Regions from separate parts of the Homo sapiens genome. Here region 2 is linked to region 1. The links come from fine-mapping of genetic effects on gene expression. Tissue or cell type: prefrontal cortex. Region 1 holds a variant in brackets; the other region holds the start of a gene. All regions are shown on one strand. Distances are between the middles of the regions.

Region 1 (8,098 bases):
CTCTTTGTGTCTCTCCCCATCTTTCTCTCCCCTCTCTCCCCTGACCCCTACTCTCTCCTCTCTCTCCCTCTCTCTCTTCCCTCTCTCCTCTGTCTCTCCCTTCTCTCTCCCTCCATTTTTCTCTTCTCTCTCTTCTCAGTCTGTCCCCCCACCTCCTCTCTCTCCCTCTTTCTCTCTTTCTCTGGCCTCTCTCTCTCCCCTCTGACTCCCTTCCTCTTGTTCTCGCCCCTCTCTCCCTCTCTGCCTCCCTCCCTTCCTCTCATAAACACACCCTAGATGTGTAGGATCTTCAGCTTCTCACCCCCTTTCACGCTAGGTGGTTGTGTTCCTTTTTCTCTGATGACTCCCACTGAAGTCTTTGTCACAGCTTTGCTCTTGGGGATCTCAGTGGAGCAGTAGTGAGAGCTCAGGTAGAGGGGCAGGAGGAGGAACCAGGTCTTGATGTCACTTAGCATAATAGCATAATGTCCTGCAGGTTCATCCATGTTGTCACCAATGGCAGGATTAACCTTCTTTTTTTTTTTTTTTTTTTTGAGACAGAATCTCTGTAGCCCAGGCTGGAGTGCAGTGGCATGATCTCAGCTTACTGCAACCTCCTCCTCCTTCACTGGGGTAGAGGGGGCAGGAGAGGGAGAAAGGGAAGAATAAGAAAGACGTGTGTGTGTGTGTGTGTGTGTGTGTGTGTGTGTGTGTGTGTGTGTGTGTGTGTGTCTTACCTGATTGATCTGGCTAGAACTTCAAGCGCAATGTTGACTAGAGGTCGTGAGAGTGGTCTTCCTGATCTTAAAGGAAAAGCTTTCAGCTTTGCACTATTGAGTATGATGTTAGCTATGGGCTTGTCATATATGGCCTTTATTGTGTTGCGGTACGTTCCTTCTGTGCCTAATTTATTGAGAGTTTTTATCAGGAAAATATGTTGAATTTTATCAAGTGCTTTTTCTCTATCTATTGAGGTGATCTTATGGTTTTTGTCCTTAATTCATTAATGTAGTGATCACATCTTTGTTTTGTTTTGTTTTGGTTTTTGATTTTGGGTTTTTTTGAGACAGAGTCTCACTCTGTCGCCTGGGCTGGAGTGCAGTGGTACAATCTTGGCTCACTGCAGCCTCCGCCTCTGGGGTTCAAGTGATTCTCCCACCTCAGCCTCCTGAGTAGCTGCGACTACAGGCATGTGCCACCATGCCCGATTAAGTTTTGTATTTTTAGTAGAAACATTTTCTCCATGTTGGCCAGGCTGACCTCAAATAATGGCACCTGATCTCAGGTGATCTGCCCGCTTCAGCCTCCCAAAGTGCTAGGATTACAGGCATGAGCCACCGCGCCCAGCTCACATTTATTGATTTGTCTATGTTGACCCACCCTCGCGTCCCAGGGATAAATCCCACTTGATCATGATGAATGATCCTTTTAATGTGCTGTTGAATTTGGTTTGCTAGTATTTGGTACCTATTCTTATCAGAGATATTGGCCTGTAATTATCTTTCCTTGTGTCCTGGTCTGGCTTTGCATTCAGGATAATGCTGTAAAATATGCTTGGAAGTATTCCTTCTTCTTTATTTTGGAAGAGTTTGGGAAGGATAAGTATTGGTTTTTCTTTAAATGTTTGATGGAATTTCACCGTGAAGCCATGTGGTCCTGGTCTTTTCTTTAGTGGGAGATTTTTTTTTTTCGGGCAAAGGACTTAAATAGACACTTCTCAAAAGAAGCCATACAAATGGTCAACATATATATGAAAACATGCTCGGCATTATGAATCATCAGGAAAATGCAAACTAAAGCCACCATGGGATATCTCCTCCCACCTGTTAGAATGGCCAGTATCAAAAAGACAAAAGAGAAGTGAGGGCCAGGATGTAGGAAAACGGAACCCTTATGTGCTGTTGGTGGGAATGTAAATTAGTGCAGCCGTTATGGAGAACAGGATGGAGGTTCCTCAGAAAACTAAAAATAGAATTGCCATATGATCCAGCAATCCCACTGCTGGATATCTATCCAAAGGAATTGAAGTCAGTATGCTGACGAGATGCCTGCACCCCCATGTTCATTGCAGCACTATTCACAATAGCCAAGACAGGAATCAATCTACAGTCCATTCATCTGTCCATCAACAGATGAATGGATTTTTTAAATGTGGTGTCTATATGCACAATGGCTAAAAAAGGAGGTTATTGGGAAGCCAAGGTGGGCAGGTCACCTGAGGTCAGGAGTTCAAGACCAGCCTGCCCAATGTAACAAAGCCCTGTCTCTACTAAAAATACAAAAATTAGCCAGGCGTGGTGGCAAGTGTCTGTAATCCCAGCTACGCGGGAGGCTGAGGCAGGAGAATCGCTTGAACCCAGGTGGTGGCGGTTGCAGTGAGCCGGGATCAAGCCACTGCACTCCAGCCTGGGCAACAGAGAGAGAGTCCATCTCAAAAAAAAAAAGGAAGAAAGAAAAAGGAGGTTAATCCTGCCATTGGTGACAGCATGGATAAACCTGGAGGACATTATGCTAAGTGAAATAAGGCAGGCACAGAAGACAAATACCGTATGATCTCACTCATATGTGGAATCTAAAGAAGTTGAACTCATCAAAGTAGAGAGTGGAACGGTGGTTACCAGAAGCTGGAGGAGGGGGTGGAGGGGGAAAGGGGAGAAAGGGGAGACATCGATCAGAGGGTGCAAAGTTTCAGTTAAACAGGAGAAATAAACTCTAGTGATCTGTTGCACAGCATGGTGACTATAATAAATACTAGTGCATTGTATATTTCAAAATTGCTAAGCGTAGATTTTAAATGTGTTCATCACAAAAAAATAAGTATGTGAGGTGATGAATTTGTTAATTAGCCCAGTTTAATCATTCCACATTGTAAACACATATCAAAACATCACATTGTACCCTATGTATGTATATAATTGTTATATGTCAATTAAAAATACAATTTTTTGGCCAGGTGCGGTGGCTCACGCCTGTAATCCCAGCACTTTGGGGGGCCGAGGCGGGCGGATCACCTGAGGTCTGAAGTTCAAGACCAGCCTGACCAACATGGTGAAACCTCATCTCTACTAAAAATACAAAATTAGTTGGGTGTGGTGGCACATGCCTGTAATGCTAGCTACTCGGGAGGCTGAGGCAGGAGAATCGTTTGAACCCGGGAGGCAGAGGTTGCAGTGACTTATGATTGATCACGCCATTGCACTCCAGCCCGGGCAACAAGAGCAAAACTAAGTTTAAAAAAAAAAAAATACAATTTTTAAAATAAATCTTTTTTTTTTTTTAAAGAAAGAAAGAGAGGCGGGCACGGTGGCTCAAGCCTGTAATCCCAGCACTTTTGGAAGCCAGAATGGGCAGATCACTTGAGCCCGAGAGTTTGAGATCAGCCTGGGAAATATAGTGAGACCTATCTCTACAAAAAGAGTTTAAAAATTACCCAGGCATGGCCCAGCTACTCAGGGGGCTGAGGTGGGAGGATCACTTGAGCCGAGGAGGTAGAGGCTGCAGTGAGCTGTGATTGCTCCTGCACTCCAGTCTTTGTGACAGAGCAAGACCCAGTCTCAAAAAAGAAAAAAAGAGAAGGCTCACATTGTGGATTATTTTCAAAGCATTTTTCCAGGTATCAACTCCTCGAACCCTCATAACAGCCTTCCTCTTTAAGAGGCGAGGAAACTGAGGCTCAGTGGGGCAAAGCAGCTCACTGAAGATCACCTTACCTGGTAAACACAGGATCCAGGATTCACACCCAGGTGTGTGCAACACCCGGTGTCTTTTCTTCTGTGCTGTATCACCTACTCACAGGTGTGAGCACCTAGGGAACAGGCTGCAAGGAGCAACATGGATAGTGCCTACTGTGTGGTCTTGAACAAGTCCCCTTCCCTCTCTGGGCAAAGAGGTTGCTGGTTTGGGATCCACAGCCCTGGACCCTGTGTTCAGTCCTGTCGGCTGTGTGCATTGTTCCAGGTGATGGGTGTTCCATGCCTACCACTCACTTCTGACCAAATAGCATCAATAATTTAAGCTCTCTTTCTTTCATAACCTAAGAAAATTGGTCCCCTGGCAAGACATGAAAAATAATTTCATGCTCTGTTATCTCCCCTCTCAAGATCGCCCCTGACAAATTGTCTCTTTATTGTCTGTTGCTCTAGCATCAGCTCACATTTGGGCTCCCATTTTTTATGGTTGCCAGCCTTACTCCTGGCTCTAACTGGGGTGGCTCCTAAAATGATCACCACCAAATTTCAATTTCCTTCCTTCCTTCCTTCTTTCCCTCCTTCCTCTCTCTC[T/C]CCCTCCCTTCCTTTCCTCCCTCATTCCTTCCTCCCTTTTTCCCTCCCTCCTTCCTCCACTCCTTCCTTCCTTCCTTCCTGCAGCAAGTATGGCCCGCTTTGCCCAAGGACCTGAGGCTTTCCTATAAGAAACTCTATAGTTGTTAATACTAAAGTGTGAAGGGCTTTTTTTTTTTTTTCTCCTGAGATGGAGCCTTGCTCTGTCACCCAGGCTGGAGTGTAGTGGCACCATCTCGGCTCACTGTAACCTCTGCCTCCCAGGTTCAAGCGATTCTCCTGCCTTAGCCTCCCGAGGAGCTGGGATTACAGGTACACACCACCACACCTGGCTAATTTTCGTATTTTTAGTAGAGTCGGGGTTTCACCATGTTGATCAGGCTGATCTCAAACTCCTGACCTCGTGTTCCGCCTGCCTCGGCCTCCCAAAGTGCTGGGATTACAGGCACGAGCCACCACACCCAGCCCCTTGTTTAACTCTTTAAAGGGAGGACATGAACCCAGCAACTTATTGTTTATACATTTTATTTGTGCCCATTATCTCTTTCATCCACCCCCCAAAACCTTGCACAACCTACGGTGGGCTCAATGGTCCTGCAGGCTGGGTGGTCTCAGGCAAGTTGCTTGAACTCTCAGAGCCTCTGAGCCTCACGTCTCTGCTTTAAATAGACAATAATTGCATAAAGAAGTTACTGTGAGGTTTTTTTGTTTTTTTGTTTTTTGGTTTTTTTTGAGATGGAGTCTCGCTCTGTCCCCCAGGCTGGAGTGCAGTGGTGCAATCTCGGCTCATTGCAAGCTCCACCTCCAGGCTTCATGCCATTCTCCTGCCTCAGCCTCCCGAGTAGCTGGGACTACAGGTGCCCGCCACCACACCCGGCTAATTTTTTTGTATTTTTAGTAGAGACGGGGTTTCACCGTGTTAGCCAGGATGGTCTCGATCTCCTGACCTCGTGATCCACCCGCGTCGGCCTCCCAAAGTGCTGGGATTACAGGCGTGAGCCACCAGGCCCGGCCCTGTGAGGTTTAAATTATATCACATGTGAAAGGGATAAACACAATATGTATCATCGATATTATTATCATCATTATTCTGAGAAAGGTATGCTTGGGTAAAGGGTTTTGGGTGGAGATAAGGGAGGAGGTCAAAGCAAAGGGACCGAGAAATGTATAATAATACTAATAACAATATTAAGAATGATACTAACAATTTCCATCAACCTTTACTGAGAGCTTACCAAGTTCTTTGTGTGTACCCTGGGCACAGGCATATATATAATATATCATTTAACTTTTTGCAAGCAAGGAGATGAGAATTTCTCCATTAAAAGATGAGGAAACTGGGGTTACATGCTGGTAAACCCAGGATGCAAACCCAAACCCATGATGGCCTCTTCTGGAGGCTGGTGCCAACTCAGTCTTCCTGTCAAAGTCAAACAGTGGCCTCTCTGTGGTAGGTGCAGCAGAGCCCTCTACATCCAGTGCCTTCTAGGGCCTCAGGGGCTCTGAGTGAGGAAACTTCTAGCTGGAAGATGGTAGCCAGGCCCAGCCCTCATTCTGGGCCTCAGAGTCCACAGAGATTGACTTCATGGGCCTCTCTAAATTGTCCTCACCCCTATGTCTTCCTAATCCCATTTCCCTAGGACTGACCATGGAACCCCTTCCTGGACAGTACCCCTGCCCCTACAGCAACACTTACAACTTCCACAGTCCATTTCATAAAGCTCGTTTGGAAACTAATTCATACTAGGCTGTGAGTGGCTATCCTAGCTAACTCTAGCATTTCCTACCTTATGTTCCACAGGCCACTCATAATGCAAGGTGCTCCACAGAAGGGAAAGAACAAGTTCATAATTGTTCTGTGGTCAAATAAATTTGGAAAACTCTGAATATTCTATTCTCCCTTCCAGAGATTCACAATACATGTTAAACTATTGTAGGCACTGAGAAGTCCTGCAGTGTGGACACCAACAATACCCAAAACTAAAGCACATGATTTTTTTTTTCAAAGAACAATGTTACAACATCTGTGTAACAGTCTGAAAAATCCTGACTGAGCAGCCATGGAGGTATAGGGGAAATATCTGTATCCCTGGACAATTATATAAATTCCCCAAGGCAAGGGATTTTATCTTTGTTCCCTGTTAGATCCTGGAACCTGTAACAGTGTTTGGTACATAGCAGACATTTGATACATGTTTAATGAATGAATGAACGAATGAATGAACAAGTCTGTGTCTGAATCCTGGCTTTGCCTTTAACTTGCTGTATGGCCTTGATCAAGTCCCCACACTTCCCTGGGTTTCCATTTCCCTACGTGTTAAAAAGGGATGAAGGCCAGGTGTGGTGGCTCATGCCTGTAATCCTAACAATTTGGGAGGGTGAAGCAGGCGGATTGCTTGAGCCAAGGTGTGCGAGACCAGCCTGGGCAACATGGCAAAACCCAGTCTCTGCAAAAAACAAAAAACCTGGGCATGGTGTCATAGGCCTATAGTTTAGTCCCAGCTGCTTGGGAGGCTGAGGTGGGAGGACTGCTGGAGCCCGGGAGGCAGAGGTTGCAGTGAGCCGAGATTGTGCCACTGCACTCCAGCCTGGGTGACAGAGTGAGATGCTGTCTCTCACACACACACACACACACACACACACGATGAGATAAAATTATGCATTCTCAATATTGTTAAGAATGTTGTTGAAGCCCCAACCCCCAGTACTTCAGTAGGACCCCCAAGAGGTGAAAATTGATCTTGGGAAGCAAAAAAACCATCTTACTCTTTATGTATAAAACACAGATATATATACAGAGTTTGTACAGACGTATATTACATACTTTATATTTGTGATATTAAAACTTCATGGGGTGGGGTCAGGTGTGGTGGCTCACACCTGTAATCCCAGCACTTTGGGAAGCCAGGGTGGGAAGATCACTTGAGCCCAGGAGTTCAAGACCAGCCTGGGCAAAATGATGAGACCCCATCTCTAAAAACAAAACTTCATGGGGGGAGGTGTAGGAAAATAACATCTAAAAAGACTCTCTAGGGGGATGACAAGGAAAGACAAAATGTTGGGAAATGCTAGACTTGATGATCTAGAAGCGTCCTTGTTCTAGATCCAGATCTAGAAGGTCTGACAGTCTATGAATCTGGCTCTACGGGAGAGTGTTGATGGGAAATAGCAGAGGGAAGAGTGTTCTAGGAAGAGGGAACAGCACAAGCTGAAAACCTCAGATGGGAATGAGCCTGGGTTATGGGCTGGACTGTGTGCCCCTCTAGCAGCTGAAATAGCTCAGATGGGAGAGTGTTTGACCGAACTATGTCCCCCTAAAATTCATATGTTGAAGTCCCAAACCCCCAGTACCTCGGAATGTGACTGTATTTGAAGGTAAAGTGTTGAAAGAGGTGATGAAGTTTAAATGAGACCATTAGGGCGGGGCCCTAATCCAACAGGACTGGTGTCCTGTTGGAGGAAGAGGCAGCTGGGATGCATGTGCATAGCGACAAGACCATGTGAAGATTCAGGAAGAGGCTGGGCAAGGTGGCTCACAACTGTAATCCCAGCACTTTGGGAGGCGAAGGCAGGCAGATCACCTGAAGTCAGGAGTTCAAGATCAGCCTGGCCAACATGGCAAAACCCTGTCTCTACTAAAAACACAAAAATTAGCCAGGCATGGTGGCACACGCCTGTAATTCTAGCTACTCGAGAGGCTGAAGCAGGAGAAACTCTTGAACCTGGGAGGCGGAGACTGCAGCGAGCCAAGATCTCACCACTGCACTCCAGCCTGGGCAACAGAGTGAGACTCTGTCTTAATAATAATAATAATAATAATAATAATAACAATAATAATAATA
Region 2 (8,104 bases), 21 kb after region 1:
ATGTGAGCTCCAGCGAGTCATTTCCCCTCAATTTCTGCCTATAAAATGGGGCAGAAACAAACCATATCACAGAGTTGTTGTGAGGTTACATAACATGCCTGGTACAGAGTAAACATTCAGGAAATGCCTATTCCTTTCCTTCTCTCTTTCCCCTTTCTCTTCCAGTTGAAGCAATCCAGATAGGCTTGCCGTTAGAGGAGGCATTTGAACTAGACTCTGAAGGATGAGGAAGATATGTACAGAGTGAGATGGAAGGAGAGGCATTCTAAGAAAAAGTTCAGAGGTGGGAACTTGGGGCACATGTACAAGAAAGAGCTGGTAGCCCAATTGGCCTGGAGCTCAGGGGACCTGAAGGGAAGTGAGGCAGGAGAAGAGGGCTAGGCCAGGGCCTGCTGGGTCCACAAAGCCTGAAGATGAATCCGGATGGCACTGTGGGCAGCATAGAGGAGCTGTTAGTTGCAAACATGCTTTGCAAACTGTGGCACACTTGCCAAATATCCAGGACTTGTACAATTTGCTGTGTGCCTCTTGTCCCGAAACCCTGCCCTCTGAATTGGCGTATGAGGGACCTAAGAGGTCCCTCATACATACATACTTGTGTGTAAAATGGGTGTAACAAGCATAGGAAAACAGCATGACTGGAAACCAGATCATCTGAGATGAAATCCAGCCCTGCTTCTTTCTTACCATCCGTGTGACCTGGAGGACACCTGAGTCCTGCTCATGACCTGTAAAGTGGCCACACCAGTTTCCTTTTAAGAGGGTGAAATGCAGCTCTATCAAACGCATGACTTTAGGCTGGGCGCAATGGCTCACGCCTGTAATCTCAGCACTTTGGGAGGCCGAGGTGGGTGGATCACCTGAGGTCAGGAGTTCAAGACCAGGCTGGCCAACATGGTGAAACCCCGTCTCTACTAAAAACACAAAAATTAGCCGGGAGTAGCGCGGGCGCCTGTAATCCCAGCTACTAGGGAGGCTGAGGCAGGAGAATTGCTTGAACCTGGAGGCAGGGGTTTCAGTGAGCCAAGATCATGCCATTTCTCTTGACCCTGGGTGACAGAGCAAGACCCCGTCTCAAAAAAAAAAAAAAAAAAAAAAAAAAGGAATGCATGACTTTGATGAAGGGTTGGCATGAAAATGAAAGGTTAACAATGCACCCTCTACAGCCAGACTGCCTGGGTTTGCATCCCACTGGTGCTGGCTGGGTAACTTTTAAGCATGTTACTTACGCACTCTGAGCCTCAGTTTACTTGTGTGTAAAATGGGTGTAACAAGGTAAGTTGGGATTAGTCTAAGAAACAGGGGGATTGTGAGGATAAATGTGAATAGCACATGAACAGCAGCTGGAATTGCTCCTGCAACATAAAAAATATTGTGGTATTTCCATCATCTTCATCATCACCATTGCTAATAAGAAAGATGATTATTATTAATTGTTGATCAAAAAGCAGGGGTGCATAGTTTTTAAGAGCCTGGGTTCATGAGTAAAGAAGATGTGAGTTCCAATTTTATCTTACATTTCCATTTTTATGAGAAAGTGGCTGAGAGAGAGGAAGGAAAGGGAGTTGCTTCAGTTTCCTTATCCGTAATTGGGGTTAATCCCAGAGACTTCATCCTTATACTGAGGAGTACAGGACAATGCAAAAAAAAAAAAAGAAAAGAAAAAAAGAAAAGAAAATAAATTGGCTCCATAAGACAGGGCAAAAAAGAAAAAGATATAATGAAGGATACAATAATAATAATAAATGCTCAGAGTGGAGCCACCAACATGGTGGGCCATCCCCCTTCTCTGCCCCCACCCTCTGGCAGACAGCCCATTCCTGGGGCTTTAGGGGGGGCACGGAACTGCCCCAGATGACCTGGCTTTGAAGCCTAGACTGGTGGGTGGGCCCTCACCACAGGCGTCTTGGCCCCAGTTCCAGTGGCTACCCCATCTTGCAGTTCCTGCCCACACCCCACCCACCAAGTCTTGGCCCAGGATGAAAGGCCAAGGAGAGGCTAGGAAGCGAGGGGGTGCTGGGTGGTGGAGGGACAGAGGCAAAGCTGGCTCCAGGCCAGGGAGAGTTCAAGACAGAGCTGGGCTCCACGGGGAGCCTAGAACCCCGAAAAAGAAGAGACAGGAGCCTATCCAGATGCCCCCGCAATATACCCTGCCTGGGACTGGGGAGCCGACTGCAGGTGACCTAGCTGAGCAGCTCCCCAGGCTCCTTCTGACCCCAGCTGTACTGTGAGTTCCCGCCATGTGACTATGTTGAAGTCATTTGTTCCACCTGGGCCTCGGTTTCTCCATTTGTGAAATGGGAGGATTGGGCCCTGTGATTTCTGGCGTCTGTTCCTCCGTCCTGAGGCTTGATCACCCCAACTTGACCTCTGTCTCTCCGTCTCTCGCTCCTTCACTGTCCATGTCCCCTGTGCCTCTCTGTGTCTCTGTCTCCACCTCTCTCTTTGTCTGTTACTTCTATCTGCCTCCTTACTTCTCTCTCCTTGCCTTGGTTTCCCTATCTCCTCCGTACCCTACCTTCTGTTCCGATCCATTGGAACCACCATTGAGTCACCAGTTATTGACTGAGAACCCATGATGTGCCAAGCTCTACCTAGCCAGGCCCAGCTAGGTGCTGGGGCCAGTGGTGAACAAGATGTGGTGGGCATCTGGGGCTTGCCAGGGCAGGAGGCTCTGGGACAGGCAGTCATATTTCTGGCCACCAGCACTGTCCTCCAGGTCAGATAACGTGGCCTGGGTAGAGGCGGGGAACTGGGGTGGCGAGAGGGATCACTGTCGATAGGTCAGGAAAGGATGGGGCCCAATGTGGGGAAAAGAAAAAGACCCAGGTCTCCGATATCCAACCCAGCTGAGCACAGTGCGACTCTCCCATTCCCACCCCAACCTACAAAGAGGAAGTCAGGCCAGGGGGCCTCAGGCCAAGGTCAAGGCTGGACAGCAGGAGAAGAAAGCACACAGGCCCAGAGCTGGCTGGCCTGGGCTGGCTCTGACCTCTCTGTGCCTTCACTTTCCTCTTCTGTGAAATGGGCATAATGAAAGTACCAAATAAGGCAGATTGTCCCGGGGACTGACCGAGATAACACGGGTTCGGCACACAGTAAGCACTCCGTAAAAAAGGCTGTCCATATCAAACCCACATCTGCCTTTACAAAACGCTTCTGTGCTCATTGTCACCTTCTTTTCTATATGGCATCCAACAGGGACACGTGCCCACCTTATAATTGCAGACACAGAGGCCCCCCTAGGGGTAGAGACCTACCAAAAGCCACACAGCGCGCAGTGGCTGAGTCAGGATTCAAACTCTGGTCTCCTGCCTCCCAGGGTCTCCCCTTTTCCCTGCCCCATGTTGGCAGCCAGCAGGGACCCTTTTGGGGGCCCATCCCTGGCTGGGGTTGTTGAGAAAGGAGTCAGGGTAGGGTTGGAAGGTGAAGCTGCTGTGGCCAGGGTTTCTGCTGTGTGTGCTGGTCTCACAAAGGAAAGTGCTGCTGTCTGCAGTGATCCAGGCGAGGTCAGGGCCCCAGTCCCCCACTCCCTGCCCAGGCCTGCTGAGCCAGCTTCCCCTTTGTGCCACAGACTATAGGGCCTGATGTCTGCCAGACTATAAAATGGGGGGTCGGACTCTAGTCACCCATAGCACCTGCCCGCCTGCCTGTCCTCCAGCAGGAAGTAGCAAGTCCCCAGGTAAGAGGGAACCCACAGCCCAGCTGAGAGCTGAAGGGGAGGGGAAGAGAAAAGGGAGACAGAGAGAGGGAGGCAGAGATAGCAGTGCCATGAGAGTCAGAGAGCAGGGCCATGGAGATAAAGACGGAAGTGGAGAGAGGAAGAAAGGGAGGGAGAGGGAGAGGGGAGAGAGTGAGAAAAGACAGAAATAGAGAGAGAAGTAAATATAATTAAAAAGGACAGATAGAGAGATAAGCAAAGATACAATGAGGGAGAGATAGTGGGGGAGAGAGGAACAGAGAGGGAGAGAAACAGACAGGCAGATAGGCAGAAAGAGGGAGAGAAGTAAGAAACAGATAGAGAGGCAAAGACAGGGAAGAGAGGAGGAACAGAGGGAGAGGGTGAAGCAGGGAGAGAGAGAGAATGAGAATATCTCCAGGAAGGCATGAGTCCAGCTGCCAGCCCTGGGGGAGTGTTTAAAGCCACAGATGTGGTCCAGATGTCTGGCCTCACCCCTGGTGAACAGGGGGCACCCCAGAATATGCACAGCCTTCCTGGAGGAGGCTGGGGGAGGGATGTGCTTATCCCAACTAGCTCCGCCTTACAGAATGTGTTCGGGAATCAGCTTGACCAGAGGGTCTTAATCTGTGCTAGCAGGGGGTCCTCAAATCCCTTAACATTGTCTCCAAAGTTAAAGAGAGCATTATTTTTGTCCGGGGACAAAGTTGAGGTATTCATCAAACATTCAAAGGAGTCCACGACCCCAAAGCAACAAGGAACCACTGGAATTGACCAAAGCCCTCTCCACCCAAAGCCTACCCAGCCCCAGTCCTCATTTTCAGAACCCTCCACATGCAGTAAATACATCCTCTTGGGTCCTCCCATAAGCCTCAGTCCCCGGCCTGTATTTGCACCCATACACCAACCCCTCAGAGGAAGCAGACGGGGAAAGGAGCTGGGAGCATGCATTCATTCATTCTCTGAACAAATGTTAATTGGGCATCTCCTATGTGCCAGGTGCAGAGCAAGTGTTAGGGATGGACGGTGAATAAATCAGATTAAGCAAATGGCAGAATACTTTAAAAGCCCAGTTGCTGGCTCCATTTCCTTGAGTTGAAATCAGAGCCCTACCACTTAGTAGCTGTTTGGGCCTGAGCTGGGCCCCTTCCTTCTCCAGCCCCCTGCTGCTCAGAGGGGATCATGATAGCAGCTACTCCATCGGGTGAGGTTCATGGTCAGATGGGTTAATTAATGTATGTCACAGTGCCTGGCACACCTTAAGTACTCCCAAATGGGACTTCTTGTTATTAGTCTAGGGAGGCAAATTGGAGTTGCACAAGCAAATCAGTGTGATAAGCAGTGTGGAAAATTGCAGGGGGCTAAGGAAGGACCTAGCGGGGTAATGGAGGGTGGAACAGCTAGTGGAGGGAACCGCATGGTCAAAAGCCTGGAGGAAGGATATATGTGGGATGAGTGGCCCCCAGACGGGAAGGTCTTGGCTGGGAAGTAGGGATGAAAGAAAAACTTCCAGGCTTAACCGTTTCAGAAGGAGATAGAGAGGAAACGAGCTCCAAGGAGGCTGAAAGCACAGGATGTGGGGCTATGAGGGCAGGAGGCAGTTTGGGGGTGTCATCCCTGAAGGCCAGAGTTTCTTTACAGACTTTTGCAGGCGGGAACCATGTCTCAGGCTGCAAAGGCCTCGGCCTCGGCCACAGTGGCGGTGAACCCAGGGCCTGACACCAAGGGGAAGGGGGCCCCACCTGCAGGAACATCCCCTAGTCCCGGCACTACCCTGGCCCCAACAACCGTGCCTATTACCAGCGCCAAGGCGGCGGAACTGCCTCCTGGGAACTACAGGGTAAGGACCTGGGGGTGCAGTGGCTGGGTGCCATGCCTTCTTTCCTTCCTTCCCTCCTCCTCCTTCTTCTCCTCCTCCTCTTCCTCTTTCACCTCTTACTCCTCCGCACCTCTTTCTCCTCCTTTTTCTTGGCTTATTTTCTCTCCTTTCTATTTACTCTCCCTTTTCTTCTTCTCCACCTCCCCAGACTCTTATCCTCTGTCCCTATTCTCTTTTTCCCTCACCTTGGCCTCCTCCTCCCTCCTCCTTCTGGGACACAAGTGTGGCCCAGCCAATCTGGGAGCCCATAAAATAGCCAGGGGTTCTGACACACTTGGAGAAAGTGGGGCCGGGCGCAGTGGCTCATGCCTGTAATCCCAGCACTTTGGGAGGCCGAGGCAGGTGGATCACCTGAGGTCAGGAGTTCGAGACCAGCCTGGCCAACATGGTGAAACCCTGTCTCTACTAAAAATACAAAAATTAGCCAGGCGTAGTGGTGGGCGCCTGTAATCCCAGCTACTTGGGAGGCTGAGGCAGGAGAATCACTTGAACCCAGGAGGCGGAGGTTGCAGTGAGCTGAGATCATGCCACTGCACTCCAGCCTGGGCAACAGAGGGAGACTCCATCAAAAAAAAAAAGAAAAGAATAGAAAGAAAAAGGGGACCTATAGTTGAGTTGTGCAATAACAACAACCAAACCATACCGCTTCACAGCTGAAGGGACACCTGGCAATCAGGCTACACCTGCACACGCACATGCTTAGAGTTTATCGAAAGCAAGAAAAAAAAAGAAGAAAAGGAAGTGGGCTGGCTTAGCAGCAGGGAACCAGCTGTCCTTGGAGGCTCACTGGGGCAGCAGGATGGCCTCAGACCCTCAAAATTGCTCGAGGTGGTCTGGGCTGAAAGGCATCCTGTGGAGCAAGGTGTCCAGTCCCCTGGGATTTGGTTTGGTGTGGTTTCAACCTCAGGTCACAGAAGTAGGCCATTTTGCAACCCCTAGTTCATGACACGCTCTCATGTGGTCAGTGCGTGGCAGGTTTTTATTTATGTACCTATTTAATCATTAGTTTTATTTAATTTCTAATAATGCAATATGCACCTACAAACCCACCACCCATATAAAAGCCAGGACTTGGTTAAAAACTTTCTACCTAACTCTAAGGTGTCTCCCTTGAGTCCATCATTTTCCTCCCCAACTCCAGGAAATACTGTCCTATCCTCAACCTGTGTCTGTAATCTGCTTGCTTGCTTTTGTATACAATTTTATGCATTATTCCTTTAAAAATGTATACACACATACACATGTATATTTATTTACTTGTTTTATTTATTCATTTATTTTGAGACCGAATTATGAGACGGGTTTTGCCATATTATCCAGGCTGGTCTCGAACTCCTAGCCTCCGCCTCCCCAAGTGCTGGAATTATAGGTGTGAGCCACCGCAACTGGCCGATTTACTTGTTTTTAATTTATTGAAATATGCAATGTGATTATTCTGGGCTTTTCTTTGTACTTTTCACTTACTATGAGATCCCTAATATCCATCCATATTGTTGCGCATGACTGCCGGCCATTCATTCTGGCTGCTGCCTGATATTTCAGAGCGTGACCATCTCTTTCCTGCTAAGCACGATTTCAGTGGTTGCTAGCTTTGCTCTCGTGAACAGCATGGCTTGGACGTTCTTATCCCTGTCTCCTGGTATCGGGGAACCTGCCCCGATATTCACATAGATTCTTTTCTATTTTTCCTAAGCGTCGGCCAGCTTGAGAAATAAAGGGACAGAGTACAAAAGAGAAAAATTGTAAAGCTGGGCGTCCGGGGGAGACATCACATGTCAGTAGGTTCCGTGATGCCCCACAAGCTGCAAAAACCAGCAAGTTTTTATTAGGGAGTTTCAAAAGGGGAGGGAGTGTGAGAATAGGTGTGGGTCACAGACATCAAGTACTTTACAAGGTAATAGAATATCACAGGGCAAGTGGAGGCAGGGAGAGATCACAGGATCACAGGACCGGGGCAAAATTAAAATTGCTAATGAAGTTTTGGGCACCATTGTCATTGATAACATCTTATCAGGAGACAGGGTTTTGAGATCAACCGGTCTGGCCAAAATTTATTAGGCAGGAATTTCCTCTTCCTAATAAGCCTGGGAGAGCTATGGGAGACTGGAGTCTATCTCATCTCTGCAGCGTCGACCATAAGAGACGACCACGCCCAGGGGGGCCAGTTTAGAGACCTAACCCCAGGTGCGCATTCTCTTTCTCAGGGATGTTCCATGCTGAGAAAAAGAATTCAGCGATATTTCTCCCATTTGCTTTTGAAAGAAGAGAAATATGGCTCTGTTCTGCCCGGCTCACTGGCGGTCAGAGTTTAAGGTTATCTCTCTTATTCCCTGAACAATTGCTGTTATCCTGTTCTTTTTTAAGGTGCCCACATTTCATATTGCTCAAACACACATGCTGTACAATTTGTGCAGTTAATGCAATTATCACACGGTCCTGAGGCGACATACATCCTCCTCAGCTGACAGGATTAAGAGATTAAAGTAAAGACAGGCATAGGAAAGCACAAGGGTATTGATTGGGGAAGTGATAAGTGTCCATGAAAT

Direction of the effects. Positions count from the first base shown, and alleles are read on the strand shown. Sizes are in standard deviations (SD) of each study's normalised expression.
For the expression in prefrontal cortex of the gene that starts at base 3,632 in region 2, allele C in region 1 goes with a higher level than allele T (small effect, 0.39 SD a copy in ROSMAP).

What was found. PIP is the estimated chance that this variant, and not a neighbour inherited with it, causes the effect.
Region 2: CRYBB1 starts here. The variant in region 1 is fine-mapped to the expression of CRYBB1 in prefrontal cortex (ROSMAP, PIP 0.95).

What each region holds. Positions count from the first base shown.
Region 1 is chr22:26,634,572-26,642,669 of GRCh38, reverse strand. No RefSeq gene overlaps it. Among named protein-coding and RNA genes, the nearest start is that of CRYBA4, 17 kb to the right of the region's middle. RefSeq lists an enhancer at 1-829. The variant T/C (reference allele first, on the strand shown) is at 4,260.
Region 2 is chr22:26,613,555-26,621,658 of GRCh38, reverse strand. CRYBB1 (crystallin beta B1) reads left to right here and starts at 3,632. Exons shown (of 6, transcript NM_001887.4): 1 at 3,632-3,682; 2 at 5,321-5,519. The coding sequence starts at 5,340. It also overlaps a transcript of CRYBA4 not described here. RefSeq lists enhancers at 2,547-3,222, 3,901-4,578, 7,289-7,967.